Linked DNA regions of Homo sapiens: all the other regions are linked to region 1. Evidence: fine-mapped expression QTL. A gene starts in region 1. Each other region holds a variant in brackets. All regions are shown on one strand. Distances are from middle to middle. Region 1 holds the start of WDR91 (WD repeat domain 91). Region 2 overlaps WDR91 (WD repeat domain 91). Region 3 overlaps STRA8 (stimulated by retinoic acid 8).

Evidence for each region.
Region 2: its variant is fine-mapped to the expression of WDR91 in whole blood (TOPMed, PIP above 0.99).
Region 3: its variant is fine-mapped to the expression of WDR91 in whole blood (TOPMed, PIP above 0.99). The same link has a PIP of 0.9 or more in blood mononuclear cells, macrophages, monocytes, monocytes after LPS, monocytes after Pam3CSK4 and monocytes after R848.

The regions. Positions count from the first base shown.
Region 1 is chr7:135,206,558-135,217,416 of GRCh38, forward strand. WDR91 (WD repeat domain 91) reads right to left here and starts at 4,969. Exons shown (of 15, transcript NM_014149.4): 1 at 4,823-4,969; 2 at 3,019-3,198; 3 at 2,234-2,441; 4 at 563-645. The coding sequence starts at 4,945. MIR6509 (microRNA 6509) reads right to left here and starts at 521; the gene lies at 437-521. RefSeq lists silencers at 353-512, 4,672-5,211 and an enhancer at 2,302-3,501.
Region 2 is chr7:135,182,660-135,193,518 of GRCh38, forward strand. WDR91 (WD repeat domain 91) reads right to left here. Exons shown (of 15, transcript NM_014149.4): 11 at 10,572-10,740; 12 at 6,685-6,793; 13 at 5,774-5,886; 14 at 4,313-4,510; 15 at 1,180-3,656. The coding sequence ends at 3,492. Among named protein-coding and RNA genes, the nearest start is that of CYREN, 17 kb to the left of the region's middle. RefSeq lists enhancers at 4,395-4,444, 5,826-6,045, 6,086-6,215, 10,537-10,859. The variant C/T (reference allele first, on the strand shown) is at 3,050.
Region 3 is chr7:135,248,195-135,259,053 of GRCh38, forward strand. It overlaps STRA8 (stimulated by retinoic acid 8), which reads left to right. Exons shown (of 9, transcript NM_001394401.1): 7 at 3,602-3,675; 8 at 6,920-7,031; 9 at 10,224-10,469. The coding sequence ends at 10,298. It overlaps LOC107984123 (a long non-coding RNA gene), which reads right to left. Exons shown (of 6, transcript XR_007060540.1): 6 at 9,519-10,859. Among named protein-coding and RNA genes, the nearest start is that of STRA8, 20 kb to the left of the region's middle. RefSeq lists a silencer at 2,339-2,489. The variant C/T (reference allele first, on the strand shown) is at 6,101.

The DNA.
Region 1 (10,859 bases):
TAAGGAGATCTTAATTTCAGGAAAGAGAAATGTTCCTCAGGCAACATGTACAGGCAAATGTGGGTCCCCTGGCTCTATTGTTTTATCAAACTAGAGAAGCATATAGCTGAGTAGGAACAACTAAATTATATATGGGTTATAAACTATATATATGTGTGTGTGTGTATATATAGTTTATATATATACATATAGTTTACATATATATGTGTATATATATATACACACATATATAGCTATACGTGGAAAGACAAAACAGACACATGAAAACAGGTTAGTTATAAGGTGGCATGGATGCATATAGTCTTTTTCTCCTTAAAAGTTAATTACTGTTACTATATTGTTCATGCTACATATCTGACTTAAAATATGAATCTCGCCTCTGGTTTTCAGAGACTGTTACTCTCCAAATCCCCAATACTGACTTTCTGGTGACTCATTTCCATCTGAGAAATTAGGTAGTGGCAGTGGAAACCTGATTAATATAGTGTTCCACTGCCACTACCTAATTTCACACACAAAAAGCAGAAGTACTTCCTCAGGAGCAAGCCTGTTCAGAACAAACCTTCTGACGCAGAACTTCATTTTCTTCTTGAACCTGGTTAGTCCTCTGACACTCCGCATCAAAGTTCAGGATCACAGGGACTGGTGCACGAAGTTAAAGAATAAGCCAGCCCCTGAAATGTTTAAACGTCCTTCCCAAACCCTTGACACACCAGTAAAACACATGAGACACAGGGACACAGAGAACAGAGTATAGGAGCGGTGCTGTGGGCTCTTGCGGGCTTAATGAAATAGTCGCTCCCTACAGTCTTGTCTCTAAGACTTTCTCTAGGTCTGGCCTCATTTCATTCGGACAGATTCACAGACGCATGACCATCTGCCTGGCCAGCCCACAGAGGGGACATAAATCCAAACCTAAGCATTTTCTCTCAAATACCAGAAGCAAAGAGCTAGCATCCAGTGGACTTCACAGCCAGTCTGAGCTTTAGTGAGGTCACTACATTCAGCTAAAAGCAGCCCTGGAGGCCAGTGGCTCTGCAGTAATACAGCCAATGAGGCAGAAAAGACCAGTCAGTTGGCTTCGCCTCCCCAGGTTGAGCCTCTCCCTGGCAAAGGTTTGGACTGAGAAGAGAAAGCTTTCTGCAGATTGCGTGGCCACCCCAAGAACAACGACAGTCTATAGCTTGGGATACTGGTCCTTCTCCACTGCCTCAGGCAGCTTCAGTTAGGAGGAGCACAGAGCAGACAGGGCCTCAGAACTGGAGAGGGGACTAGAGCCCATATGTGTGTAAGCTAGTTTGAGAAGCACTGAAAAGATCTTGAGTGACAGTTTCGATTTCACTGGAGGGCCCACAAAGTTAACTGGAGAGCCCTCAGGATGAAGAGAGGGAACAACGGGGAAGAAACAAGGCAGTTCTGGCAAGGGTGGAATTCACACTCATCTGGGGCACAGAAAGGGTGAAGGCAGGAAAGGTGCCCTTCCCACCTCCACCAGAAAGTGTTCCTCCCAGAGGCCAAAACGCCTGCCCATGGGTGGGCCTCTAAACACCCAAGTTTATCAGTGCCTCACCAGCCAGCCCCATTCAAGCCAGACTCCCTTCTCCTCCTCTAAATTTCCAGCCTAGGGAGCATGAACAATGGCCTTGGGAGCTCTGGCTTGTACACTTGGTAGGCTGTAAATTATTTACCTGCATTCTCATTCATTCCCCCTCTCCAATACCCGCATATATATTCTTAAAGCTACTGTGTTCTCTGGCAACTTGAGGAACACTGAAGTTACTATTAGAGACAATAACCCAAACACTAACACAGACAGAAGTTCCAACCCAAGAAGTCTTCTCATCTGTACCTAATCCCAGCAAAGGTATATCCCCGGGAACACGTTTCATGCACAGAGAGGGTACTCTCAAGGCTGCCCGGTTTCTCCAAGCAGCAGCTGCCTTCCAACCCCAGTGCCTGCTGACAAAGCCAGTACTAGCACCCCACTGCTGCCACTGTCACTGCCCACACGTCAGCTAATACTTCAGCAGCACAGTGTCAGAACTAAGATTTATGATTCCCTGGCTTACTGACAAAAACAACCACAATTTGTCCAGCCCCCTCATGTGACCCATAAAAATGGTCCCTGGGCATTTTTGTAGAAGAAATGCCTGTATGGAGACCAGCGGGCTACTGATCCTGAGGTCTGGGTGCCTCAGGCTGGGCCTTCAGCCCCAGGCAACTGAAAGGATATGCATGCACTGAAACAGGACGCTCAGGAAGTTGTGCAGGGACACAATGAAGGTGTCAGCCCACTGTCGAGAAAAGTAGGTAGCAAAGGTGGGGTTGGTGTCCGGGGATGGCAGGAAGGGCAGGACAAACCAATCCTTCCACTCAGCCTGGTTCTGGAGTTCCGTGGCCTGCTTTGCAAAGAACTCCTGAGCCTTGTCATTTCTGTTTGTCTGCCAAGACACAAGGAGGTAGCAAGGAGGGAGGAGAGACAGAAATCCAGAGGTAAGACTCTTCATCATTGCACAGCAGACAACCTTTGACTATCAGCCTGCCAGGTAAGTGGCAAAATAAAATTCCATAATATAAAGGAAATCATCACTCTTTTCTCAAGGAACTTGTCATTTCAAAGCTGGTTTAAGCTGAAGTTCTAATGATAAATCCCATCCTAAAAATTAATCCCTAGCTGATGTTCAAATAACTAAGTGACTCATTCCTCCAGGTCAGCTATCATCTTTATTACTCAAACTTTAACCCAGCTACTTATATTCTTTAAAATACCACCTTTGTTTTAAGCTTACATGCTTAACATAAAAAAGGAAATAGGAATGGGGAAGACAAGTCAGATGATCTACAGATGACGACAAGGAAAAAAAAGAAGAAAAACAGTCAAAAATAATTGCACTGTAACTGCTGCACTCTTTCCCATAGTCACATACAGATTCCTCCCTAGGAACTGGAAGAAAATCTATTTTGGGATCAAAGAGCTCCTTCCACCAAGGGAAGCAGAACCCCTGAATCAACAGGCACCTGGATTGTGTAGACAAGATAAAATCGAAACAGGCTGGTTTTCAGCTTGTGGATTGTGGGTCTGTATATATCCTCCAAGCGGCTGAAGAGCCGACGCTCCAAGTAGCTCCAATAATCCCGAAGGGCAGCCAAGTCATACACCTGCATTAACTGCTGCAGCTGGTCCACAATCTTATCCACCTGGCGAGAAACATGGATGGAGAAGGTGGTAAGGGACAGAAGGGAATTCTCCCCTCCATGGAATAAAGCTTTTTCCTCTTGTCATGGCTTCTGGGTGTAAAAAAAAATTTGTAAGTTAGCAATCTATAAAATTTTCAAAACATACTAATGCAACGGTTTTTCAGTAATTTTCTGATGTTAGAGAAGTGGTTTGACCCTCTAGCAAGCACGGAAATTTCAGGTGTAAAAGGGCTCTGGCCCAGAACCTAAGAGATCTGGCTCCAGATCTTGGATCTGCCTCTGACTTACTTGATCAATTTGGCAGTGTCATCAGGCCAGGCACCGTGGCTCACGCCTGTAATCCCAGCATTTTGGGAGGCTGAGGTGGATGGATCACCTGAGGTCAGGAGTTCGAGACCAGCCTTGCCAACATGGTGAAACCCCGACTCTACTAAAAATACAAAAATTAGCTGGACGTGGTGGCACGCGCCTGTAATCCCAGCTACTCGGGAGGCTGAGGCAGGAGAATCGCTTGAACCCAGAAGGCAGAGGTTGCAGTGAGCTGAGATCGTGCCACTGCACTCCAGCCTAAGCGACAGAGTGAGACTTTCTGTCAAAAAAGAAAAAAAAATGGCAGTGTTGCTTAACTGTAGTTTCAGTTACCTCACATTTTTAAAAAAGGGGGTGGGGTGAAGAAGAGCTATGAGACAATCTCCACAATTCCCAGATCCCAAGGATCATGAGGAGGTGCATGGACTGACTCCTTCAAGTCATCAAAGTTCCACGAAGCCGTGGTAGCTGCTCAGAGTGTCAGCCAAGGAAGTCACCTTCTTGTGAGGAGCAATTACAGCAGAGTACAGAATCTGGAAAAGGGTTTGGATATCAATACCAATCCAATGCCCCTAGTTTATAGATCAGGCCACTGAAGCCCAGAGGGGTGAAATGATTTGCTTTTGCCACTAAGTAGCCACTAACTTTGGCCAGGCAGGAAACCAGATCTCCTAACTCCCCTCCAGTGCTCTTGCTGTTAGCTCACTGCCTCTCATTGAAGTCAGTACACACAAACATACAAATCACACACATATACATTCCAAGAACCTCGCAATGGAAAATCATTTTAGAGCAGGGGAAGTTTGGGTTTCTCTAATGTGCCATGAGGTCTTCCACAACTGCAGAAGCAAAATTGCCGATGAGTCCCTGACGAGGCCATTTTAAACAAACACCGCAGATACTTGAACGCAGCTAACGTTTTGGACTGCAGACTTCTTTGCTTCCACTGCCACTGGAAGCCAACACGAATATCTGTTGCCAAAACGCAACCATCTACCTAACCTCGGCTCCTAAAACCTCATCGCCATCCTGGCCAAGGAGGCTGGAGTGGAGACAGAACCCTAGACCAGGAGCCGGGGCATCGGGGCTCCAGCCTCGGCGATGCTCCTGACTCGGGGGGCGGCTTCAGGCAGGTCCTGTCCGTCTGAGGGTCTCAGTTCCTCATCCGTCAAGCTGGGGTCGGACGCGCTGAGGTCTCCGGCGCCCCGGCGCGAGTGACAGCGCCGCTCTCGCCCCGGAGGCAGTGCTGGGGGGAAGCCCGCTCCCCGGCTCCCTCGGGCCGCCTCTGCCCGCGCCGCTCCCGCCGGCCTCTCACCCGGAACCCCTTCTCCTTGTCCGCCTTGATCTCGGCGTCCAGCTGCCGCAGTGTGTGCGTGAACCCGCGGAAGAGCAGGTACTCCCGGACCAGCTCGTCAGTGCGCTCCACGGCCTCCGCCATCGCAGCGCTAGCGTCTTTAGGGGTGGTGCGGTGAGGGACGGAGGGGCGGGGCCTGGGAGAAATGGGGCGGGGCCGGACGCGGGCGCCGAGCACGTCACGCCGCGACAGGCCTACCAGCCCGCACGCACTGGGCGACCAGCCTGAGGCCCCGCCCCTCGGCCGGCTCCCCGCCCGAGGCCCCGCCCCTGAGCCAGCCCCAGCCCGCCTGGCCGCTCGAGTCACCCTTACCCCTCCCGAGGAGTGGCGAGGGGAGGTCCTGGCGGCGCCGGCGGCGGCTTTGTCTGAATTACTGAAAGTGGCGGCTGCCACCCACGTCAAACAAGACTGGATCTTAAGAACATCCCAGGTAGTCCCGAGGCGGGCAGGGGGTGCGGCGCCCTGTTGGTTGGCGTTACATCGCAGAGCTCCCGGTCCCCTGCCCTCCTCCTACACGGAGGAAGCTGGAGCCCTAAGAGCAGAGTGACCTGCGTGAAGCCACAACACGCGTGTCCTCAGAGAGCGCTAACTCCCCCAAATCTCTGCTTTCATTAGTAAGACGAATTGGCTACACAGCAAGATAACCAAGATGCACTGCTAGGATAGGCAAATTTCATAGCAGTGTATGTACGCTATAGTCCTGGTTTCTTGTGAAAAAAAAATTAGGTATGTATGTGTGTACATTTTTTAAATTCAGGAAGATTATACACCAAGTTCCTATGCAGTCGGGTCTCTGCATCCTCGGGTTCCGCATTCACGGATTCAACCAACGAGGATTGAAAATATTTTTTCCAAAGTTTTAAAAATAAAAAATAGCCGGGCGCAGTGGCTCACACTTGTAATCCTAACATTTTGGGAGGCCAGGGTAGGCGGATCTCTTGGCCCCAGGAGTTGGAGACCAGCCTGGACAACATGACGAAACCACATCTCCACAAAAAAAAAAAAAAAAAAAAAATGCGGAGCGCAGTGGCTCACGCCTGCAATCCCAGCACTTTGGGAGGCCGAGGTGGGCGGATCACCTGAGGTCGGGAGTTTGAGACCAGCCTGACCAACATGGAGAAACCCCGTCTCTACTAAAAATACAAGATTAGCCGGGCGTTGTGGCGCATGCCTGTAATCCCAGCTACTCGGGAGGCTGAAGCAGGAGAATCGCTTGAACCCAGAAGGTGGAGGTTGCAGTGAGCCGAAATCGCGCCATTGCATACCAGCCTGGGCAACAAGAGCGAAACTCTGTCTCAAAAAAAAAAAAAAAAAAAAATTAGCCGGGCGTGGTGGTGCTGCCTGTGGTCCCAGCTACTTGGGAGGCTGAGGCAGGAGGATCACTTGAGCCCAGGAGGTCGAGGCTGCAGTGAGCTGTGATTGTACCACTGCACTCCAGCCTGGGTGACAGAGCAGGACACCGTCTCAGTTTAAAAAAGAATACAATTTTTAAAAACACAAATTAAATATAGCATAACAACAATTTACATAACATGTACAATGTATTCAGTATTATAAGCAATGTAGAGATTATTTAAAGTATACAGGAGGAAGTGTATAGGTTAGATGCAAATACTAGGCCTTTTTACATCAGGGCATCCATGGATTTTGGTCTTCTAGGGAGGGTCCTAAAACCAACCCCCTGCAGATACCAAGTGACAATTGGAGTGGTTTTATCTGAGAGGTGAGACTATGAAGGACTTCTTGTTTTTTACTTTCTTTTTATTGTTGAAGTTTTTACAAGGTGCACGTATTTTTGTAAGTAGGAAAATAGCCAATATCTTTGAGACTTGCTTCTGCAGAATGGTGACAATAGGCCGGGCGCGGTGGCTCACGCCTGTAATCCCAGCACTTTGGGAGGCGGAGGCAGGCGGATCACAAGGTCAGGAGATCGAGACCATCCTGGCTAACACGGTGAAATCCCGTCTCTACTAAAAATACAAAAAATTAGCCGGGCGTGGTGGCGGGCGCCTGTAGTCCCAGCTACTCGGGGGGGCTGAGGCAGGAGAATGGCGTAAGCCCGGGAGGCGGAGCTTGCAGTGAGCCGAGATCGCGCCACTTCACTCCAGCCTGGTCGACAGAGCGAGACTCCGTCTCAAAAAAAAAAAAATGGTGACAATAACACCCACCTTGCACAGTAGTAATGAAGATTTAATAAGACAGTGTATGTAAAACGCTTAGCACAGTGAATGGCCTATTGGTAAAATGCATGGAGTGTTCCCTTCTCCTTCCCTCGAATGGTATGACTTTTCGTGTTTGTCAAAATACAACTCAGAATCATTGCTGCCCCTCTGCTCAGACCCTCCACTCCTACTCTATGGAAATTCAGCTCCAAAAGGGCTCTGATCTACACTAGAGAAAGCCAAAAAGATAGCACAGGGCAAGCCACAGCAGGACGAGACAGACCTTGTTCTGCCCTCTTTGTTTGCCCTACCTGTCTCCACAAGTGTACCCTCCAGGCAGCTAAACTTGCCTCAAGGGCAGGAAAGGAGAGTCACCACTGTGACTACTGGGAGACCAACTCCTACTTTGAGATCTCAGATCATCAAAGTGAACTTGGAAAATTTGGACAAGTTGCAACCACCAAAGCTTCCACCTACAGGAAAGTTGTGAAGTAGATTTCCCTAAGGGCACCTGAAGTCTGCAACCATAGTTCTCACCTCCCCCACCTCCATCTGCCCTGACACTTCCCAGACCAGAGCCTGTAAAACCAGCTAAGATTAGTTTTCTGATCAATGAAAGGCAGCTCCTCAGAGCTTAAGTACAAGCCGTTTGTTCTACAGGAATGTCTTCTCCAAGATACCCACAGGGATAGCTGCCTTTCCTCCTTCACGCATTTGCTCAAATGTCACTGTCTTAGTCCTTTGGGGCTGCAATTTTTTTTTTTTTTAGAAATGCCATAAACTGGGTGGCTTATAAGCAACAGAAACTTATTTCTCATAGTTCTGGAGGGTGGAAAGTCCAAAATCAAGACACTAGCAGATTCATTGTCTGCTGGATGCCCACTGTCTGGTTCATAGATAGTGCCAAGTTACATGCTCAGTAGAGAGCATCCATCGCCATAGCCTTTGGTAGATAAATCTTTTCTTACTGTAGTCAGTTCCTTAAAAAGTCATGAGCACCTCTGAAAACTGGAAATGGCCCACAATGATCCATCCAGTAATTCACAGGTTTCCTATTGGTAGCCCTCATGCTTGTTGTAGGAGGCAGCCTATGTATATGTTAATCTTTCGTTCACTGAAAATCAGTGACACACAATAGATACCCTTTTTCACTTCTCAAATTAGTAATTTTTAAAATGTATTGCCCACTGTTGGTGAACATAAAATGAAAGGGGCATTGTCATTAAGCTTCAGAAGGAGCTACTTTTCTAGGAGTCAATTTATAGATTATCAAAGCTTCCAAAATGTTTCTACTCTTTAGCCCAGTGATCCCACTTAATTTCTTTAATTTCCCTTAAAAAAATAATTTTAAAAATAAGCTGAAAGAAAAAAAAAAAGGCTGGGCACAGTGACTCACACCTGTAATCCTAGCACTTTGGGAGGCCCAAGTGGCAGAATCGATTGAGGCCAGAAGTTATGACCAGCCTGAGCAACATAGGGAGACCCCGTCTCTATTTTTTTAAAAAAGAAAGTAAATTAATTTAAACATTAAAAATAAGATTTATGCAGAATGGGGTTTTTTTTAATAAAAGTGCAACTTATCTTTAATAATGGAAGTTATTTACAATAGTGAAAGGTATAAGTATTTAGAGGCTACAGTGAGTTACCCTCCAAGATCTTGGGAATGAAGAAATTGTACTTCCCACTGAGAGTTAAACGGCAAAATCAACCTAAGATGGTTTAGAGTCCAAGGATGCAAAATCAGTGGAAAGAGAGAGAAAAGATATTAGGCTCACTGGCCTTGGTTGAGGACATTCACTTCCAAAATAAATATTATGTCAGTCGGAAGAGGTTTTAAACACAGGCACCCAGAAACCAGAGAGTGCCATGGGCAGGGCCCATGCTCATTTGCAACACAGCCGGCACTTGTCCTATGTTCTGACCTATGGCAAGGCCATCCCCAAAATGAGAAGGTGGCACTAGACCATCCCAAAATTGGGCCCCGATAGGCATCCCACTCCGCTTTTCCTGGTACAAAGCTCACAAAAAGACCATTTGTGTCCTCAGCATTTGACTACATGGAAACATAGCATTCCAGTGTCTTCCTCCTGGTAAACTAAAAGGCAGTTTTTGATTACAATAGTCTTCCAACATAGGTGGAAAGGATATCATTTATGCCAGTGTTACCACGAATAGTCCCTGTGTGACAGTTATATGTCTCATTCAGATTTACAAAGTGACATCGTGATATATTCTTCAGGCCCCTGTGCAATGAGGTTAGCACAAATCAGCCTTTCAGAACTTAGTCACTCCTGGGGACTACAGGAACCAGTTCCAGCGGGTCTGTACACACCAGTTCCACATGCAGGAGTCTTATTACTGATTTCTACAAGGAGAAAGAAATCTCAAACAACCAAATGTTCAACATTAGAGGAAATCTTATACATCATGCTACCTCTATCCCATGTAATATTATGCAATTGTCAAAGTTTTTGTTTTTTAAGATAATTTAATTATTTGGAGAAATAGTTATAATACAATGTGTTTAAAATTATGATTCACACTCTAGAAACCAATTTGGCAGTTTCTTACAAGATTAAGCATGCAAATACCATACAACCCAGTAATGACACTCAGGTATTTGTCCCAGAGAAAGGAAAACATAGATTTTTACATAAAAACCTGTACACAAAGCTTTATTCATAATAGCCAAAACTGGAAACAACCCAGATGTCCTTCAACAGCATGATTCCATGTATAGAACATTTTTGAAAAGCCAAAATGTAGACATGGAAAACAGATTAGTGAAGGCCATGAAGACGGATGGGCACGTGGGAGGAGGGTGAGGAAGGAAGGGTTGTGATTTTTAAAAGGGCAACACAAAGGATCCTTGTGGCAATGGAATTGTTCTGCATCTTGACTGTGGTTATAGACGCACAAGCCTAACATGATAAATTGTATAGAAGTAAATACACACACACGTACAAGTAAAATAGGGAATTTTGAATAAGATCAGTAAATGTCAGTATCCTGGTTATGATATTGTACAAGATGTTACTATTGGAGAAAACTGAATAAAGGGTACAACGGGATCTCTCTGAATTATTTCTTTCTTTTTTTCCTTTTATTTTTAGTTGGCATGTAATAATTGTACATATTTATGGGATACAGAGTGATATTTCTTTTCTTTTTTCTTTTTTTTGAGACAGACTTTTTTTGAGACAGACTTTTTTTTTGAGAGACAGACTTTTTCTTTTTGAGACAGACTTTTCTTTTTTTTTTTTTTTTTTTTTTTTTTTTGTTTGAGACTGGGAAACAGTCTCACTCTGTTTCCCAGACTGAAGTGCAATGGTGCAATCTTGGCTCATTGCAACCTCTGCCTCCCGGGTTCAAGTGATTCTTCTGCCTCAGCCTCCCGAGTAGCTGGGATTACAGGCATGAGCCACCACGCCCAGCTAATTTTTGTATTTTTAGTAGAGACAGGGTTTCACCATGTTGGCCAGGCTGGTCTCCAACTCCTGGCCTCAAGAGATCCACCCACCTCAGCCTCCCAAAGTGCTGGGATTACAGGCATGAGCCACCGTGCCTGGCCCAGAGTGATATTTCAATACACATATACAATGTGTAATCATCAAATCAGAGTAATTAGCATATCCATCACCTCAAACATTTATCATTTCTTCATATTGTGAACGTTCAAAATCCTTTCTTTCTCTATATTATTTCTTATAACTGCTTATTAATCTATAGTTAATTAATCTATAGTTATATCAGAATAATAAGTTTAATTTTTAAAAGTTGATACAAAACTGTAGGTGCAATACCATTGCTTTGCATATTCTTGATCATATGTACAC
Region 2 (10,859 bases), 24 kb before region 1:
ATGGGCTGGGGTGGAAAAGCATCTTTTCCTTGTGAATAAAGGAACAGAAAATACTTGGCTATTCTGCCTTGCCACTTATGGAAACAAAAAAAAAATCCTTGGCAATTGGAACTGACAAAGAGGCTTTACTAGTCCAAGCTTCGGTCAGGCTTCTGAGTGTTCTGCAAGGCCCGTCTGTGCACTTCCTTGTAAAATCCAGTCTTAGCAAAAACCCCTTTCCCCTCGGTATCTGATCACCCTCCAAGCCTTATCAGGCTCCTCACCCTCCACCATCCCCGAGTGGCCTATCACCCTAGCCTGTATTCAGCAAGAGTCCTGTTAGGTCAGTTTCACCAGAATCTCTCTTACCCTGATGGCTCCTCTTAGTAATTTTCTATTCACAGACCTCCACCCTGCTCCTTGGCTATGAATTCCCACTGTGCACGCTGTATTCGGAATTGAGCCCAATCTCTCTCCCACATGCAAGACTCCATTGCAGTGGTCCCTATACCTATCAAGATAGTAGTCTTTACTGTACTTTAACGAGTATCATTGACTAAGTTTTTCTTTAACAGAACCACCCCTTGCACATTTCTCTCCTTAAAACCTCTTTCCATAGCCAGCTGAAAAGAGCTATTTGAAGGGAGAGATGCTCCCTGCCCCAGGCAGGGGTCAGGAATCTGAACTGTGTGATTTGCACAGATTAGAGTCAGCACCCAAAGCATTTGGGGGTTTGGGGGATTTTTTTTAACTGACAGCTAAACTGCTGTTTATCATGTGAGGTAATGCACGTGTCAGTTAGCTAGATTTAATCATTCTACATTGTCTGTATTCCACAATGTATACATACTTCAAAAGATTACATTGAACTCCTAAAGCATTTAAATGGGGACTGGCTATGAGGCCCTCCCCATTCAAATGCTTCCCTCAACTCGCAGAACACAGCCAAGGCCTGAGGCCATGGAGCAGAAGAGGCAAATACCGGCAGGTATCTGAAGAGAGGGAGGAAATGGGGAAGTGCACCTGCAAGGCTCTCGGTGCAGCCCTCCCCAGAGCTGAGGGTCCACACCTGGGCTGGGAACTGAGGCTGGGACTGGGAAAGAGGTTTTCTTCTATGCCACCCTCAACCAAGAGAATGGAAGAGTCTTGCTTGGGTTCTTAAGCAGACGCCAAGCAGGTCTATGGAAGGAGAGATAAGCGGAAGTTCCAACATGCTTTATTTGAGGACGAGCGCTCACCCGGGATGGAGTAAGAAGTGGGATGGGAGAAGCGTAGGGTTCAAATTTTCTTTGTGTCTCTGTGATCCTTAAAGCATCTCAGCAAGCTGTAGAGATGGTATTAAGGGGAGAGAAAACTTTGAGATGACAAGAGGAAACGTTAATACCATTCTCACTCCAATGAAACCCATGACCACTTTTTAAATGTCCTACAGAATCACTGGGTGAGATAAGTAAGATCACTGTTTCAATACAGATGGGGAAAGATAATAAATAAAGAAGTCTTGGTTTTCTTCATTTGCAGGGAGGATTACCAGGGTAGAAATGGGTAAAAATCGGTAAATAACTATTTACTACTGTCTCTGGTGTTTTCTCATAATCAAGCCACTTAAATACCTCCCTACTTTTCCCTCAACTCCCAGAACAAAGCCAAGACTTTGGTACCAATTTCTTCGTGCTTTTCCTCAAGCAGGTAACTAGGAGTATCCCTACTCCAGCCTTGTGCCCCTAGAACTGGGCTGGAGCTCAGAGACTTAAAATGACTCATGGCAGCTGCCTTCCCCAGCTCAGTGATAAGGTCGCCCCTGCCAAACACTGGAGACCAAAGCCCAGGTCCATCACTCCCATAGTGACTCCTCCCATAAGCTCTGCCTCAGCTGTGAAAGGCAAGAGGGAGAAGGGGAGTGAGGCTCTTGTTCCTCCTCACCTAGTGGGAAGATATGCCTCTTCAAGGTCCCACCCCAGCCAGGGAGGAGAGGGCAGGCCTCAGGCAGGGTGTGGACACAGCTGGTTGACACTCAGCTCAGCTACAGATCGGCTCAGCCACAGTTGGGCCGGCCTGAACCCCAGGTGCCCACCAGCAGCAACTTGGCCCCCTTGCTCTACCTTCTCACCATTCGCCAGCAGTGGGTGCAGGCAGCCATCATCTTTCCACAAAGATGTTCAGTTGGAGGAATGAGAGGAGCCACCAAATGAAAAAGGTACAGGTTGAGCGTCCTTAACCCAAAGATCCAAAATCAAAAATGCTCCATAACCCAAAACTTTTTTTTTTTTTGAGTTGGGTTCTCCCAGTGGCGTGATCTCGGCTCACTGCAACCTCCGCCTCCTGGGCTCAAGTGATTCTCCTGCCCCAGCCTCCAGAGTAGCTGGGATTATAGGCACCTGCCACCATGCCTGGCTAATTTTGGTATTTTTAGTAGAGATGGGGTTTCACCATGTTGGCCAGGCTGGTCTCAAGCTCCTGACCTTAAGTGATCCACCCACCTTGGCCTCCCAAAGTGCTGGGATTACAGACGTGAGCCACCGTGCCCAGCCCCAAAACTGTGAGCACCAACATGACACCACAAGTGGAAAATACCACACCTGACCACAATCAATACTTTGTTTCATGTACAAAATTATTTAAAATACTGTATAGAGTTACCTTCAGGCTACATGTATAAGGTATATATAAAACATGAATGAATTTCATGTTTAGACATGAGACCTACCAAGATACCTCATTATGTATATATGCAAATATTCCAAAGTCTGAAAAAATCCAAAATCTGTAACACTCCTGTCCCAAGCATTTCAGATAAGAAACGCTTAGCCTGTCTTGGGAAACAGCAGCCACTGGATGGAAAGGGGCAGCCAGTAGCAGAGGCCTCAGCCCCTGCCTTCATCCTGAGAATCTTCTGTAACAAAAGCTGCCAGCTTTCAGGGAAGAAAAAGAATTCTGTGGCCTTGACTTAAGCCCAGAGAAACAGGAACTGCCAAACCTTGTTACCCAGCAGAACAGACAGAGAGCTGACCTGGCTCCATGGCAAAGCAACAGGAGAGCCTGGAGAGGTTCAGTTCAGGGCCAGCAGAGC[C/T]AGGCTGGGTGGGAGGGCTGTCACTGAAGCAAAGTGACACACATCCTAGAAAGAGACATCAGGGGACCACAAGAGTATTCTCTTTTTTTAAAAAAGAAAAAGATAAATGGGCACATATATACAAAATACTGTCAATTTCTACTGGGCCAACACAGTAGCCACTGCAATGTTTCTCCTTCTTCCGGAGCTTTCCTCCCATAGTCTCACATGTACTCCTGGCACAGCCACAATACCAGTCTCTGGGAAGCATATGTCACCTACTCCACGTGGGTCCCATTCCAGTCACCACAGATGGAAGCACCTGAGCCTCCTTGCCAGTCTTTCCCTGCAGAGTCACTGCACTGGCAGGGAGCTGGAGTGGAGCACGTGGTTTTCCTGTCCTATATCTCCTCCCCCCACCGCAGATAATACTGCTTCCTCGGGTGGCCCTTGGGGCAAGTCATCAGGCTTTATGGGCCAGGAGGGTGGTCAGCTTGATCTTGCCATCCATGGAGGCGGTGAGGCAGGTCCCACAGTCCATGGCAGTGCTCCAGTCCACGGTGACCACAGGGGCTCGGTGGCCACCTAGGCTCAAGCAGCTCTCCAGAACCTTCTCATCGCCACCCAGCTGCAAGAGGACAGGAAAGAGGAGGAGGTGTCAGCAAACACCAGTTACACACACTTGATCCACTTTCAGTGGCCTACCTGAGGATGTGCCTGAGGCCAGACACACATGCCCACCTTTCCAGAAAGTCTGTTTAACTTTTTGAACCAGGAAATGCTTGCACTTTCCCAACTACAGCTGGTCCATCTGAAGTGGAAAACAAGTCCCTGAGCGGCTCCTTAAAAAAAGGCATTTTCTCAGCTGCCTTGAACTTGCTGTGGGCTGGTGCCTCTTGCACGCACACTGGTTGTTCTCACTACAGCATCACTTCTCACTACCTGGCAGGTGCTCATGAATCTGCTTATTTGTTGAAGGTTCATGTCCCATACTGGGGAATGCAAGCTGCAGGAGAGCAGGGCCTCGGGCAGCTCTCTCCTGCCGGGGGGCCAGCCTGCCACACCCAGAACAGTGCTGGCCACAGGGGAGCCTTCAGTTAGTGCAGAAACATGGCTCTCCTCTGAACCCCAGCACTAGCTAGCCAGCGATCCTTTGTCAAAGGCATCTCCACAGCCATGCAGCTCGGGGTAGAGGGCCTCGCTCAGTAGCCATGGCCCAGACCTCCAGGGAGGAACCCCTGCCCACCACAATACCACTACCTCCCACCCCCAACCATCAGTTACCTTGTAGATGACGCCGCCTGTGGCAGAACATGTCAGCATGTAATTTCCCTCCGAGTCAAAAGCGAAGAGTCGGCCCCTGGGGACTTGAACCTGCTTGTAGCCGCTGTATCCAGACAGCACAAAGGGGCCCGTGGCATCTGAGGGGAGGCTGTACTCGGATACCTTGAGGCCACTCTTGTGGATGTTCCACTGGATGAACTGCAGTCACAGGGCACAAGCAGGGTGCTCGCAGCGGAGCTGGCCAATGCAGGCCTCAAGGAAGAGCCAGGACCCACCCCACAGCAGAGGCTGGCGAGGGCGACCCGCCTCCCCCAGCCACAGTGCTGACATCCTTGAAAAGCCTTTCAAGTGCCAGAGGCAGAAAAGTGGGTGAGAGGTCTACAGGTCCTATCTCTGGTCAACATGATTTAAGCATTTTTTAGGGAAGAAAATCTAGAAAAAGAGGCAGCAACCTCACATTAAAGTCCAACCCTTCTCTTTCTCTCTGGCCTGACCCTAGGAGAGGAAAAGGGACAGCAAGTGGCTTTGCCTGGATTCCTGGTCTCTCAAGCAGGAGGAATGCTTCAAGTGACATATTATTATTATTATTATCAGAGTTAGACCCCAACTAGATTTTTCTATCCTAGGAACAAGGTACAGAGGACAAAGTCCACATATATTTCCAGTGTTTCAGGCATATAATCAATTGAACACTGGGCGATGCCATTATAAACTCAGCTTCTTATCATAGCAGACATCATCCCTTAGCCTACCCTACGGACAGGATACTTGGCTGTGACCACCTCTTCACTGAGCATCCCACATAACAAGGAAGTCGAGCTTTAATGTAAAAGTCCCTTCCCAAACTTTTCAAATGAAGAATTTATTTTGTAGTTACTCCTTTCAAGGGATAAAAAGATAGACAGTGTCCAATCCCAAAAGTCCAGGCAGGCACACATGGAAAGGGCATCCTTCTCCCATCTCTGCCCCTGCCAGCTCCCCCTCTGAGGCAGTCACTATTCCTAGTTCCTAACCCTCCACAGAGGGAATCTACCAGGGGCATGTACTTTTCCTTTTTTTCTGGCTTCTTGTTTACATCTCTGGGCTCTGCTGGGGTCTGTACACATCTAAGAAGCTGTACCCAGCCACTCAGCAAACTACACATCCATGAGTGGTCCTGGGACCACTCACTACCAAGCCCAGCAAAGCAAACTCAGCCCTAAATCCAGACCCCACAGATACATCTATGGTAAGATGAGTAATTTTTGGTACTTCCTTTCATAAGGATAGCCAACTCCCACTGAATTCACTAAAACCTCGCAAAGATTGTAAGACGAATTACTAGTTTATCCCTATTCTACAGATAACAAAGCTGCAAAAAGAGGCCCCAGGTTGCAGAGCTAGTAACAGGTATGGCCACAACCTGCAGCCGGCCCACATGTCATCCCGGTGCTCTCTTATCTGAATCCTGCAGCCGCCTACCTTCCCGTCCTCGCCGATGCTGTACACGGTGTTCTCATCATAGCTGAACTCCACAGAGTAGACCTCCCCGTAGTGGGCCCTCCAGCTCATCGCGCACTCATGCTGCTGCATGTCTGAGGCAATGAGACACGGCCACTCACATCCTGGCCAGGGCTCTGCAGAAGGAATCTGCCTGCAGCAGGAGGCCCCCTCACCCTCTACTCAGGCTGACAGCTGTTCTGGAAGCCAAGGGCAGGCACCCAGGACCCAATGAGCGCCATAAAGCTGCCCCTGCCCAAGAGGTCAGGCTGCTTCTAAGCCTCAGAGGCAGCTTCTTTCACCAGGTCAGAAGTGAGGCTCAGGAGTCCCTGGGGGGAGCTCACCTGGGGAGCCCTAAGTCTAGGAAGACACCTGAGAAACTCCCCTCTGTAACTTCCCCATGTGCCCTGGGAATCCCCTAAAGATACAGTTGCCTTGCCCCAGCCCAGGCTCTGGGGATGTCTCCTGGGGACAGAGCCCAACCTGGGGATTTCTACACAGCATGCCAGGTGATTCTGATGTATGCCTCTGGTTAAGGAGCACTGTTCTGATGCTTTTGAGAATCAACTACCCACAGCAAGTAGGTAGGACAGCAGTACTCTTGTATGCCCTCCTGTATTTCACATGGGTGACAAGGACTCAGATGGAACAACTCAAGACTCAAGGACCGCTGAGCTCCACCCCCTCCCATGTCTATTGACACTAACTATGGGCGAGTTTATTACGGTGGGTGTTTTGAAAACGTTGACCAAAGTTAAGCTGTAGTACATGCATCTGAAGTCAGGGTTTTGCAAAAGCCTCTAGCCCAGCTGGCAAAAAAATCCAACGTCGGCAAAAAAAATTGCCTGGGAAATCTAAGGAGATCAAGGATTGCTATGAGCACACTTGCATACCAAACAGCCGGATGACGCCATCAGCTGCCCCTGTGACCAGCAGGTTCCCGTTGTGATTGAAGGCTGTACAGTTGATAGCAATGGGTTCTGGATCCAGGGAGAACTGGAGCTATTGAAATAAAACAAAAATGTCAGTAGCAGATCTTCACTCAGCCCAGGCACGCTGCTTATTCCAATGCAGACAGGTGCCCCAGACTGGGTTTTCCACCAGCTCCTCCCTTATGTAATCTGGAAATGTAGATCTGAGCCTTTGCCAAAGTGCTGTGCCAGTGACCTTCTGTGCTCTTTTGAGAACAAGTTCTCTGTGCCTAAATACATTCTGGTTTCCATAGAGAAATGATAATCCATGCTTGCTCCATTATAAAAGAAATAATACATATCTTAGCAACCTACACTTCACCCAGAATGCATTCCAAGCAAATTCTCATTGAAAAGTCTTATGCCCTCAGAAAATAACACTTCATCAACTGCCTTTGATGACAGACAACACTAATAAACCTGCCCTATGGCTCCCCACAGAAACACTCAGAAATATAGTAGCAAACAAAACCACCTCATAGAACATAATGTCTATTAATTACATAATTAATGAACACTATCATTTCAAACAATATGAAACCCTGGGAACACTAAATAATCCTCCTGAAATTAAAAATGCAAGATAGAATGTTATTTAAAATACACACAGAGTACTGAGCTAGCAAATAAAAGAATCCTCTAGGGCCACAACTAAGAGAAAGCAAGAACGCAGAGAACCAGTGCACTCCAAAGCCGGCTTTCACTATGGGGAATTAATCAGATCCAGATGACTCAAGTTCCCATTCTGCTACCCATGAGGAGCTCAGGAGCCTGGAGACAACCATGTGTGATCTGCCCAAGGTCAGGCGATAAGAAACCGTCACATGGAGCTGAGACTCCAAAGAGCTATACCTTCAGTGCAGGAATGAACTAGAAACAAACCTACTTCACAGAAAGGGATAACAAGAAAACTTACCTCCCTGCAAATTCATAACCACAAACTAGCCCTGACGTGGGAGGAACCTGGCAAAAATTAATGCAAATCCAAAGAAATGCACCTCCAACCCAGGCCTCAAAATATTCTCAGAGATACTGGCCCAAAAAACACCATGATCACAATTCATAAGAAACAGGAAAATAAGGCAAAAGGAGCCAGCACCCACAGAGACAACAGAGCAGAATCAGACCCACAAAGACTTCAGACATTAGATTTATAATGAGAACATACAAGCACATTCAATTGTTCAACAAAATAAAATAAGGAATTGAAAATATGGGTAAAAATGAGAGACTATAAACACGACAAAGCAGGTTTTAAAAAATGAAGGTGAGCTTCTAAAAATGAGAAACACAATAACTGAAATTACCATCCTAATAAATAGATGAAACAGAAGATTAGATATAGTAGAGGAGAGATTAGCAAACTGATGGATCTGAAGAAACTATTATCAAGAATGCAGCAAAGTGAAACAAAAAAGAGGAAGAGGCAAGTTCTAACACATATGGAATGGGAGTTCCAGAAGGCAAGAGATGATCAGAGAACAGCAATACTGGAAAAAATGATGACTGAGAATTTTCCAGAATTGAACAGACACAAATCCTCTGATTCAGAAAACAAATCCCAAGCAAAACTTCAAAAAAATTAATTTCAAAAGTTAAGAACCAGAAAATCCACATCCAGAGAACCAGGTAAGATTTTAAAAGCAGCCAGAGAGAAAAGACAACAAAGGAATGCCAATTACATGGAGAGCTAATGTCCCGGTCTCAGCAAAGGCAGCCAGAGGATGGACCAAGTCACAAGGTTAGGGAAGCAGTGTTCAGCCTGGAATACAAGAAGCTATTCTAGAAAAACACATATACTGTGGTTTATTCATATGGAGTCAGAAAACCTGCAAAACAAAAATTCGGTTGTTTAGGGATATATAGTAATTGACATGATAAAGTAATTTTTTAAATGTAAGGCAGGCCGGGTGCAGTGGCTCATGCCTGTAATCCTAGTACTTTGGGAAGCCCAGGTGGGTGGATCACCTGAGGTCAGGAGTTCGAGACCTGGCCAACATGGTGAAACCCCATTTCTACTAAAAATACAAAAAATTAGCTGGGTGTGGTGGTGGGCACCTGTAATCCCAGCTACTCAGGAGGTTGAGGCAGAAGAATTGCTTGAACTCAGAAGGCGGATGTTGTGCTGAGCAGAGATTGTGCCGCTGCACTCCAGCCTGGGTGACAGAGCAAGACTCCATCTCAAAAAAAAAAAAAAAAAAAAAGTAAGGCAACAGTATGACAAAATTCAAGACAGGTTCTCTCTGGAAGGGAAAAAGACCAAGACTGGGAAGGGCTACACAAGAGCTAAAAAGTATTGGTGATGTTCTGTATAAACTGTGATGGGTCTGTGGGTGCTCACTGTACTGCTTTTCTTCTCATTATACTATACACCTATGATTTCAATATGCTTTTGTATGTATTCAATGTCTAATTAAAAACTTGAAAATCACAAGTAAACATATAATTACAAATTGTAATAAGAACTTTGGAGGAAAATACAAGATGCTATGAACTAAGAGGAATTGAATTAAACTGGTGGAGAGGACAGTGGGCAGGGAGGGGCACGAGAGATAGGTCTAGAGTATGTCCCTGGAAATGCAGAGAAGTGGTCAGACTGGAAACACACTGGCAGCATTTGCTTATGGACTGACTGTGTGAGCAGAGGGAAAAAGACAGGTCTGGGAAGAACCCCAATTTCTGTTGTGTTTTTTTTTTTTTTTTTTTTTTTTTTTGAGACAGGGTCTCACTCTGTCACCCAGGCTGGAATACAGTGGCACCACATCAGCTCACTGCAGCCTCCACCTCCCAGGCTCAAGCAATTCTCTTGCCTCAGCCTCCCAAGTAGCTGGGACTACAAGTGAGCACCACCACACCTGGCTAATTTTTAAGTTTTTTGTAGAGACAAGGGCTCACTACATTGCCCAGGCTGGACTTGAACTCCTGGCCTCAAGCAATCCATCTGCCTCAGCTTCCCAAAGTGCTGGGATTACAGGCATGAGCAACTGCTCCTGGCCAAGATCCCCAATTTCTAAGTGAGGCACATTTGCCAAAGTGAGGAAAATTATGAGGGGAGGGATGGATGTGGCAAGGGGTGGAGGTCAAGAATTCGAGTGTGACCCTGACGGGCCTGAGAGGTCTGACAGACCCAAAGGGAACACAGACCACTTCTACAGGCAGATGCAGAACAGAACAAACTGAACATCTGGAACAGGAACCCACTGAAAGCAGGAGCCTTGAGCTTCCAGCAGCATCAGGAAACAATGTGTTCAACATAAAGGCCATATGACTTGTAAGCAGTGAAACGAATCATTTTAATAAGAAGTAGCACTGCCTTGGAAGGTGAGTTTAGCATCATTCAATCTCTCTGGGGCTCAGGGTGGCAGCTGCAGCATCTATTACTGTCTTGAAGGAAGGGGTCCTTGGCTCTGAGGTGGTGCCCAGGTCCCCTGGGAGCAAGTTCACAGGCTGTCTGGTCACCTCGCTTCTTACGAATCTGTATGTGTCCTTGCTACTGCTGGCTGCTGCTGCTATAATTCTCATACAATTTTAAGGTAACAGTATGTCAGAGGGAGGCACGAGTCCTCTCCTAAATAATCAACCACAGGGGCCCTCTGGTAGGTTCTGGGTGTCTTCTAAGTTTGTGGCACAATTCTGAATGACATGTCACTAACAATCTGCCCAGTTGGAGTACACTACTTTTCAACACTCAAAACTTTATTAAAAATCTGAGGAGACCAAAGCAAAAAGAGGGAAGAGGCTCTTCAGAAACCCAGGGGAATACAGAGTGTGTGCCTGGCCCCAGAGAGAGCCACAGGGCAGGCCCGTACCTGCTGCTTCATGGTTTTCGTGTCCCACAGCAGCAGCCTGCCAGGAACCTGGTTCATGCCCTTGCTGCCGATGTCTGGTGCTGAGAAGTCCACCTGGGAAGTGAGGCTCGGAGCTGCTGCCGAACAGACGAAAGAGGCCCCGTTGGGGCTGCACGCAAGAGACAGGATTCTGCAACACACATGGGCCTGGGTCAGACCCTCTGCCTGCCCACAGAGGGAGGGTGCACTTTGGTCCTGAGGCTGGATCCTGCACAGGAGATGGGGCATTAGGCTTGGGAAAGGACCAGC
Region 3 (10,859 bases), 42 kb after region 1:
ACGACAGAGATGTCACCCATTCCTGTCCTTCCAGTTTGCAGGCCTAACCAGCAGTGTGACTTGCCCAGAACTCCCAGCTCCTGCTTCAGTGACTGTGTCTCTGTCATCACACATTTTTTCACATTACTCTGCCCTTTGGTCACCTGTTGATGGTCAACCCTCCATTATCTCCCCTGATGCTTCTCAACTGAATCACCTGTGGAGTTTTTTTTTAAAGTCAGGTGCCTGGCTGGGCGCAGTGGCTCACACCTGTAATCCCAGCACTTGGGGAGGCCGAGCAAGGTGGGAGCAATGCTTGAGCCCAGGAGTTTGAGACCAGCCTGGGCAACACAGTGAGACTGCGTCTCTACTAAAAACTAAAAAAAAATAAAAAGGTGTGGTGGTGGTACACCTGTAGTCCCAGGTACTCAGGAGGCTGAGGCAGGAGGATCCTTTGACCCCAGGAGGTCAAGGCTGCAGTGAGCTATGATTGTGTCACTGCACTCCAGCCTGGCAACACAGCAAGACTCTATCTATCCCAGACACACTGAATCAGAGCCTCTGAGGGTGGGGCCTCAGGAATTGCATTTTTAACAAGCTTCCCTCGTGGCTAGTGCAGTAGGTCCTATTGGAGGGAACTCCCAGTGCAGATGTTCAATGGCCTACCAGCTACTGCCTTGGTCCTTTCCCCGACCCCCGAACATGGGTCCACCAGACTGTGGCTTCTGATCTGGTTTTCCTCTGATGTTGGGTCCACCATGAGAAGACATGCGTTCTGTTCCATGATGGCTCAAAAAAAGCCAGAAGATTAGGACCTCATACCCAAGGCTTGTATGAAAGGGCAGCCAAACAGATGTGTTTACAGCCCCAAAGTGCCAAGCCCTGGAGTCTCACATGAAGAAAACGAAAGGAAAATACAGTCATGGGCTACATAAAGATGTTTTGGGCAACAACAGACCACCTATACAATGGTGGTCACATAAGATGATAATGGAGCATATATGGAAACCTGATATATGGCACTCGATATTGGCATTGCACATCAAGTAGGGTAAATAATTGATATTCAGTAATGGAACTTGGATTTTTGGTTTTCCATATGAAAAAATATATATAAATAAATATATGGGCTGGGCGTGGTGATGCCAGTCTGTAATTCCAGCATTTTGGGAGGCCAAGGTGGGTGGATCATCTGAGGTCAGGAGTTCAAGACCAGCCTGGCCAAAATGGTGAAACACCATCTTTACTAAAAATACAAAAATTAGCTGGGCGTGGTGGCGAGTGCCTGTAACCCCAGCTACTCTGGAGGCTGAGGCAGGATAATCGCTTGAACCTGGGAGGTGGAGGTTGCAGTGAGCCGAGATCACACCATTGCACTCCAGCCTGGGTGACAAGAGTAAAACTCTGTCTCAAAAAAGAAAAGATAAATATATGTATATATGCCATCTAGGTTTGCATAAATACACTCTGTGATGTTCACATGACAAAGTTGCCTAAGGACACATTTCTCAGAACTTATCCCCATCAGTAAGTGATGCATGACAGTATCTACCAAATGCCTGAGCAATTCTGCCAAATTTGACTGTGCCAGCACGAACACTTCCCCAGGAAGAACACATCCAAAGAGAAAACAACCAGAATCTAATGTCTCCAAATCATGGAAACAGCTTTTCTGGGTTTTTCAGGGAGGCCTATGGGCTGATGTTTGTTGGGTATTAAGGGAAGCTGGCAGCAGATTCCCTCAGCTGTGGCCAGAAGCAGGGCTCTGCCTGCACTGCTGTGCCCAGGTTTAGGCCAGGCCAGGGCTGGGCGATAAGGTAGGCAGAACAGAGAACTCCCATGCCCGAGGCAGGGACAAAGCCACAGTTACTCCTGCTGAGCAGTGACACCACTGCAGCCCCTGGTCCACCTGGAGAGGTTCTGCTGCAGAACTGTTGTGTTAGAGGCCAGCAGCACGGTCAGATGGGCCCAGGAGGCTCTGGAATGCTCCATTTCAGTTCAGACATGAGCTTCCCTGTGAGTGTGGTGGCACTCTGGAAAGGCTGTGGAGCCTGGTCTGGGGTCCCCTCTCAGGCTGGCTTGTGAGGGGGATTTGCACAGGTGAGCACAATGTGTGGCCTGCGACTTTGGTGGGCTGATTGCTTAAGGACAGGGATTTCAGTTCTGGGTCCCTGTTTCAGGCCTGCCAGGGAGCAACATGTAGCTGATAGGCTTCAGAGCTGATGGACACTGAAGCACAGGTCTTTCTGTGGCCCCTTTCCAGATCCTCTTTGAAATGACCACAGAGATATCAAGTAGAAGGACAACAGAAAATGTCCGGAAAACTAAGAGAGGGGCCAGAGTCCCAAGGGATTCAGTTCCAGGAAGTCAATTGAAGGAAGACAGAAAGGGCAGACACCAATCCTCTTGGAAGAGCTGTGTGTTGCAGGAAGGGAAGAGGAGAGGAGAGACCCTGGCGGAACCTGCCAGTACCTGCCAACTCAGGGTCAGAGAACTTCCTCTCCTCTCCTAGGCGTGATTGCCAGTGCAAAGGAGATGTCAGTTAAAGTAAAGCATGCCCAGTTCAATTTTTAATACAAAAACGTCCCATGCATGATTCAAAACATTCTTATACTAAAAATTATTCATTCTTTATCTGAAATTCAAAATGTAACTAGGCATCCCGTATTTGTATTTGCTAAATCTGGCAGTCATGTAAGTGTAAATCATGTTTCTGTAACATATTTAATATTCTCTAACACATTAGGGGGAAGCAGGATGAAAAACTGTCTAAATAGCAAGATTCCAAATTGGAAATATATATTATAGACCTAGGGAAGTGACTGGAGAGAATTAGATCAATGTGTCAACAATGGATATCTGGGTGGGATTGTTTCTCAGTAATTCTTATTTTCTTGATCTGTTTCTATTTTCCAAAATTTCCACAATGAACATGTATGTCTCTTATAAAGCAGATAATGTTCAATTATGTGCCAGGTATGTCTGTTATAAAGTGGATAATGTTCAAATGTAACTAGATACTTCACATACATTATCTTACTTAATTCTTGGAATAGCCCTATGAGTAGACACTAATGTGATTCCTGTTTTATAGAGGAGGATTTGTGAGATGAAGTAACTTGTCCCAGGTCACACAGCTAGCAAGGGACACAGGCCTGGGAGTTGGCCTGCCTGCAGCCTAACCCAGAGCCTTCCTGACCCTCTGGATTCAGCTGTCCTGGCATGAGACAGCTAGACTGGGGACCCTGGGCTCCAATAATCTGTGCGCCTTGGGAAGTTTTGATGAGGTTTTTCTCAGTGGTAAACTGAGGCTCTGGTAATTGCATCTCACACCTGAGCTCCCACCTTCGTCGGCAAGAGGAATCACAATCCCCATTTCTTCCTGTCCCTCACAGCCACCTCCAGGGTTGGCAGTTTGTCCTGGGCACTCTAGAGTTTAGCATTTACCCCCTAGGAAGAACAGCAAGCAGAGCCCCTGGGTGTGGGCCCCAGCTCTGACATGCATGCCCTCTGGGGTATGTGTAAAGAGAGAGCCTTTCCACTCATCTCTCCCCAGCAGCCCAGGGCAAGCATGAAATTGTCAAGTTATTTCCAACACATGAAGTGTTGTGCTTTCTTTCAGATCCTTTTTGAGGATGCCTTTGATGTGGCAAGCTTCCTGGACAAAAGTGAGGTTCCGAGTACATCTAGCTCCAGGTGAGGAAGAGGGTGTGAGATAGCATGTGCCCCTGTGTGGGTGGATGTGAGATTGTGTGTGCGCAGGTGTGTATGTGTGAGTTTGCATGTGCATGAATGTGGTAAGTCAGAGACAGAGAGAGGAGACAGAGGGAGAGAGAGAGAGTGTGTGTGTGTGTGTGTGTGTGTGTGTGTGTGCACCCCTGCTGGGGTGTTCAGGGGCCTCTCCTCTGCAGTCCCTAGATGGGTGTTGTATTAGTCCATTCTCACACTGCTACAAAGAACTACCTGAGACTGGGTAATTTATAAAGAAAAGAGGTTTAAGTGACTCACAGTTCCACAGGCTGTAAAAGAGGCATGGCTGGGGAAACTTACAATCATGGTGGAAGGCAAAGGGGAAACCTGTATATCCTCACATGGTGACAGGAGAGAGAGTGAAGGGGGAAGTGCTACACACTTTTCAAATAACCAGATCTTGTGAGAACTCTTGTCATGAGAACAGCAAGGGGGACATCCACTTCCATGATTCAATCACACACCCCCTCACCAGGCCCCTCCTTCAACACATGGGGATTATAATTCAACAGGAGATTTGGGTGGGGACACAGAGCCAAATCAGATCTGGTGCCTAATTCAGTGGGTATTCTTGGGGATCCACCTTTTTTCTGTGATTGGAAGTGAGCTGGTCCTAGGATTGTGTCATTGCCCTGGGGATGACACTATCTGTGGCATCTTCAGAGTAGAAAATTCTTCCATCCTGGCGCAGGGCTGGGACATACCAGGTTATCAGCTGTAGGTTGTGGAAACTCATCTGTTCACTTTGCACCCCATTCCCAGTGTGTGTTAGTCCTGCTAACCTCCACTGAGGGCTGCTGTATCCCTGCCTTAAGTCCATTATATACTAAATGCCATAGGCTGGATGGCTTATAAACAACAGAAATGTATTTCTTACAGTTCTGGAGGTTGGGGAGTCTACGACCAAGGTGCCAGCAGAGTCAGAGGCTCGGTTTTTCACAGACGGCACCTTCTGGATAAAATTCACATGGTGTAGGGGCAAGGAATCTCTCTGGAACCTCTTTCTTTAAAAAAATTTTTTTTTTTTCTAAGACAGAGTCTCACTCTGTCACCCAGGCTGGAGTGCAGTGGTGTGATCTTGGCTCACTGCAACCTCCGCCTCCTGGGTTCAAGTGATTCTCCTGCCTCAGCCTGCCGAGTGGCTGGGATTACAGGTGCATGCCACTATGCTCAGCTAATTTTTGTATTTTTAGCAGAGACAGGGTTTTGCCATGTTGGCCAGGCTGGTCTCGAACCCCTGACCTCAGATGATCCACCCACCTCGGCTCCCAAAATGCTAGGATTACAGGCGTGAGCCACAGCGCCTGGCTCTGGGGCCTGTTTTATAAGGGCACTAATCCCATCATGAGGGGCCCATCTTCATGCCCTAGTCTATGATCTCCCGGAGTCCCCCACCTCCTAACACCATCACCCTGGGGATTAGGCTTCAGCATATGAATTTCGGAAGAACACAATCCATCGGTCTCTAGCACCCAGGGCAGCTTGCGGGCAGGTTCTCCCAGCTGACCTGGAAGGAGAAGGCGGGGAGGGGGCTCTGGGGCACAGAGAATAAGGGCCAACATGCAAATAGGCATGGGCCCTGAGTTTAGGGGACTCTCTGAGTTCTGCAAAGGGGGGTTGCTGCTTTTCATGGTGCTGATGGGAACGGATATGGAAGGAGGGGAGAAAAGGATAGCTGACCCCATGAAGTGGGAAGACACAAAATAGGATGTGAAAAGATTTTAAAACAAGAAGCAGCGTGACTAACAATGTCCCAAAGGTGTGTTTTCTGAGAGAAATCCTTTAGGACTGAAATTCCCTTGCTGCTTTGCTTGAAAAACCTGTGGTCTTAGAGCCTGAAGGCACAGGTTCTTCAGATACCTGTGCTGCTATCATGGCTAAAAAGAATCCTGGACATTTATTTTTCTGCTTTGGGGGTGAGAGGGACATATCCTTGTGATCCCAATGAATATCTCATTGTCCTCTCAAGGGGAGCCTGGCCTATGGGTGCCTGTGAGGCCTTGGGGCCACAGCTGTCCCTAGTAACCCAGCTGGCCTTTCAGCAGAGCTTCAGGGAAACCACACATCAACATTTTCCCTCCATTCTCCCTGTTCCACCCAGGCCTAGATGGACTTGGGGAGAAGTGGGATTGTCAGAGGAGGGCTTTGTCCTCTCCAAATCGACCTTACAGAGTGACTCAAGTGCTTCTCAGCTGTGAGTGGAGTTTCATTTTGCTGCAATTGGCTGGAAGACACATTCCTGTTTCTGTGCTGAGCTTGGACTGCAAAGACAACCATCGAGAAGCTGCCAGCCTGTCCTTGCCAGGCAATATTCAGAACTCCCTGCCCTGCTGATGGAACAGAAAAACAACCTATTAAAAATGTTCCACTT[C/T]CCCTAGAAAAGTCAGGGGTTGCTGCCAGAGGGTTCCTCATCCCGGGAGGAAGTGAGGGCTGCCTGCTGACTCACAGTGAGTGAGTGCCAGCTGTCCTACAGACACACAGCCTCTGTGCTCTAAGAAGCCCTTTGAAGCAGGGTCCACATTGCAGGGCCTGGCTCTTAGCGGGCATTCCTAAATGTTGCACGAGCCCCTGCCACCTTTCCTAAAGGCTGAGCTAACTCATCATCTTCTGAGGCCCTGCAATAACAGTTGCTGTCAGCTTTTGAAGGATTTTCATGTCTGCTTCCAAACTGTGCTGCTTATGGTGACATAAGCTCGAGTCACACAGGGCTTCTCCCCTTGTCCCAGGCAGGCAGGAGGAAAAGAGCCTGCACAACAGGCCTCCTTTCTGCACCAGGGCTTGAGTTCCACGTTAGACCCACTGAGCAGTGGCAACTCAGTGAACTGAACTCAAGATGTGCGGCGTGCTCCAGAGCTGCCTCAGCAGCCACAGTGGAACCAGAACTGTGGGGGCATTCTGCAGAAGATTGAGGGATAGAGGAACTCTCGTTCCCTTGTTCCAGTGGCCACAGCTCAGAACACTAAATTAGGGCACAGGAGCCAGTCTCACCACAGTCTCGATTTTCCAGGGGATTCCAGACATGATATGTGAGCAGAGGTAACACAAACCTTTCAAGGAGAGGTCTGGGCTGTCTGAGAATTTACATGTGCTTGGTTCATACTGTAACCCAAATCTTTCAGGGGAGGGGGAAGCAGAGTTGAAAGATCAGGATCCTGAATATTTGTTGCCTTTTCTTCCTTTCTGTTGTCAGTTCAGTGCTTGCCAGCTGCAACCCAGAAAACCCAGAGGAGAAGTTTCAGCTCTATATGCAGATCATCAACTTTTTTAAAGGCCTTAGCTGTGCAAACACTCAAGTAAAGCAGGTAGGATGGAGTAGAGGGCCGTGGTACCTCTGCCCACCTTGCTTAGATAGCAAAAAGGGCTCTTAAGGGCAGCCCTAACCAGAACTCACCCCAATCATACCATGAGGAGCCACTGGGCAGGGACACTCTCCATTCTCTCTGGCTTGCTCCATGAATGGTCACCTTCAGCCTGATGCATCCTGTAGAATGAATGGAAGATAGCCAGGGAAACAGGAAAGACAGAGAAGTGTCCTCTAGGGCAGGGGTCCCCAACTCCTAGGCCACAGACCAGTACAGATCTATGGCCTGCTAGGAACACAGCTGCACAGCAGAGGGTGAGCATGACAGCCTGAGCTTTGCCTGCTGTCAGATCAGTGGCAGCGTTAGATTCTCATAGGCGTGCAGACCCTATTATGAACTGCTCATGCAAGGGGTCTAGGTTGCTCTCTCCTTATGAGAATCTGACTAATGCCTGATGATCTGAGGTGGAAGAGTTTCATCCTGAAACCACCCTTGCCCCCCAGGTCTGTGGGAAAATTGTCTTCCGTGAAACTGGTCCCTGGTGCCATAAAGGTTGGGAACCACTGCTCTAAGGCAGACCTTGACTGGGAGCCCTTTGAAGCAGGAACCCGATCCCAGGGGCCTGACTCTCAGCAGGCATTCATAAATGTTGTGTGAACCTTTGACACCTTCCCAAAACGCTGGGCTATTTCATCATCTTCTACAGTCTTCATCACCTTCGGTAATATTTGCTGTCAGCTTTTGAAGGATATTAATGTCTGCTTCCAAATTGTTCCACTTACAGTGATATGAGCAGTGGGACTCTTGGTTAGGAGGGCCATTCCTGGAAGCTTTTGTCAGAGAAGGGGGGTTATACCTGAGCCACAAGGGGACAGGTCCTTTCAAATTCATAGCCATGGATTTTTCTTTACTAGTTTAGCAATAATACAACTGTTTATTTAAAAGGTAAGTTATAATAATAGCAAATGTTTGTCTAAAAATAGTCAAGACACCTGTTCAATAGGCTAAGGTATAACTTGCCCTTTTCCAACTAAGTCTTCATTTCCTTCTTCTGGGACCACAGTGAATCCTTATGTGGAGCCCTTCCTTGCAGTTTGCTCTCCCCTTCCCACCAATCCTTGGGTGACAGTCCCCTGGACCAGTTGTCCCCTCTTTCTCTCAGATACAGTTAAATTAGCCCACTTTATCAAGACTTTGAGAATAGACGAAAAGGACAATCTTTGCCTCCCCTCCTTCTCCATATATGGCAGAAAAGATAACAAGCAGGGATTCTTGTATCCATACAAAGCAAAGGTATGGCCGGGTGCAGTGGCTCACACCTGGAATCCCAGCACTTTGGGAGGCTGAGGTGGGCAGATCACTTGATCCCAGGATTTCAAGACCAGTCTGGACAACATGGCAGAGCCTCACCACTACAAAAAATATAAAAATTAGCTGGGTGTGGTGGTACATGCCTGTAGTCCCAGCTACTCAGGAGGCTGAGTTGGGAGGATTGTTTGAGCCTACAAGGCAGAGGTTACAGTGAGCTGAGATCAAGCCACTGTACTCCAGCCTGGGCAACAGAGTGAGACTCTCTCCAGACAACAACAACAACAGAACAAAGCAAAGATGCCAAACTTCAGCACTCCTAGATTCCCGATGCCTCAGTGCTGCAAGAACGGGCCCCAGAAATCTGCATTTGGAATGAGCTGTCCAAGTGGCTCTGGGGCAGGAGGACTCAGGCTTTGATAGACTCTGGTGTAAACAGAAAAGTTGCATTCTCCTCCCAACCTCTGCCACTGTCTTCCTGCTGAACAAGGGGCCCACAAGATTTGCCTGGAGACTGTGGTCCCACCTCCCTGACACTCTTGATCCCTATTTCCCTGCCCCTATCAGGAGAGCATGGTGAATGGGAACTGCTTCTCCAGGGCAGGAAAGGCTCAGTTTGTGGAGGTCGTCCCCACTATGAGGATATCACCCTTGGGACCAGGTCCCACATTCATTAGATGGTTGACTGGGGTCAGGGATGCCACCTGGTTCCATGGGGATCAACTCTGATCTGCAGGGCTGACAAGTTACAGGGGTCATTTTCTGCTAGGATGGAGACAGACAGAAGGAGCAAAGCCTCAGGAACATATTTTTAGAGGAAGAAGTCATGGAGAGTCCTGAGGTGTTGGCTGGGATCACTGTTTACAGTGTCCCTTTAGGGACTGAGAAACCCTTGCTAAGCAAACAGTGCTGCTGCTTTTTTTTTTCACCCAGGATGGTGTGTAGTCATGGTGTGATCTTGGATCACTGCAACCTCTGCCTCCCAGGTTCAAGTGATTCTCATGCCATGGCCTCCCGAGTAGCTGGGATTACAGGCGCACACCACCATGCCCAGCTAATTTTTTTGTATTTTTAGTAGAGACAGCATTTCGCCATGTTGGCCAGGCTGGTCTCGAACTCCTAACCTCAGGTGATCCGCCTGCCTTGGCCTCCCAAAGTGCTGGGATTACAGGCATTGAGCCATCATGACCAGCTGCAGTGCTGCTGCTTAAAAAAATATCATCTCCTAATAGGTAACCCATATACATGGCATAAAATTTACAAGTTACCAAAAGATATACAATGGACACTTAGTCTCTCTCTCTTCCTTGCTTCCTACCCCATACCCTCCCCCAGAGGCAACTACAGTGACCAGTTTCTTGTACACTCATCCAAAGATATTCTACAGATATTATATATTCTTTCAAACACAAATAGTAGTAGCCTACGGTACACATTGCTTTGCACTTTGCCCTTTGTAAATAGTGTATCCCACAGAGAGCACGCTGTCTCATTATTTTTGTTGGAAATGAGCTGCATGGTGTTTCATTGGTGGGAGCACCGTGGTGCAGTGCACCGTCTTCTATTGATGAGCATTTGGATAAAGCCTTATGAGGTCCTCTGTCTCTCTTGTGGGAACCTGGAAATCCCCAGGATAAAAAAGAAGCCAGTTCTGCTGTGTCCTTTCTGGAGGTCATAGAATGCTGAGTTGAGTGAAATGGAAATGGGACCTTCCCCCCTTAGAGCCCTTGCTTCCTGGCCCAAGCTGGAGGTGAAAATGCAGCGGAAGAGACGTAGGATAGAGTCTGGGGGCTGGGCACACCGGAGATGCAGGAGCCTTCCTATCTGCCTCGGGCCCAAGACCCACAGATAAAAAGTGACCCTCTTCCACCCTGTGTCTTGCAGGAAGCATCCTTTCCCGTTGATGAAGAGATGATCATGTTGCAGTGCACAGAGACCTTTGACGATGAAGATTTGTAATGCAGAAGAGGAGCTGCGAGGGGAGGGACTGAATGAGGTGGGCAGTTCCCAAGGTTGAATGCTGGCAGCTAAGGTTGCACCTGCCTTGGCCTCCAGGACTCTTTGGAGTGGGTTGTTCCAGAAGCATTTTGATGATTTTAGTTTCTGATTATTATAAAGTATAAGAGAAGCACGGCCTCGTGTTGGTCTTTAGGGACTGTTTGGCACAAAGGGCTGGCCTGCTGCTATTGTGCTCCTATTAAGGGGGTAGAAAGTACAGCTGGGGCCCAGGCCATGGGCCTTTCAAGGAGGACAGGCAGGATCTGTCCTCGGAGGTGACATAACACCAGGTACTTTCAGCATGTCCTGGGCACAGGGCATTGCCCTGATGGGTTCTAGAGAGTTCCACAGCCCACCTGCTCATCCTGCACACTCTGAGAGCCAGGGGCAGTGCTGACCTCAACCCTGTGCCACAGGACAGCTGGGTGGAACCAGATTCATCTGCTGCTCCTGGTAATAAAGTCACCTGAACAGGAGCTACAGTGAGGTCCGAGGGTTCCGAGGGCTTTCTGGTGAGGCTTC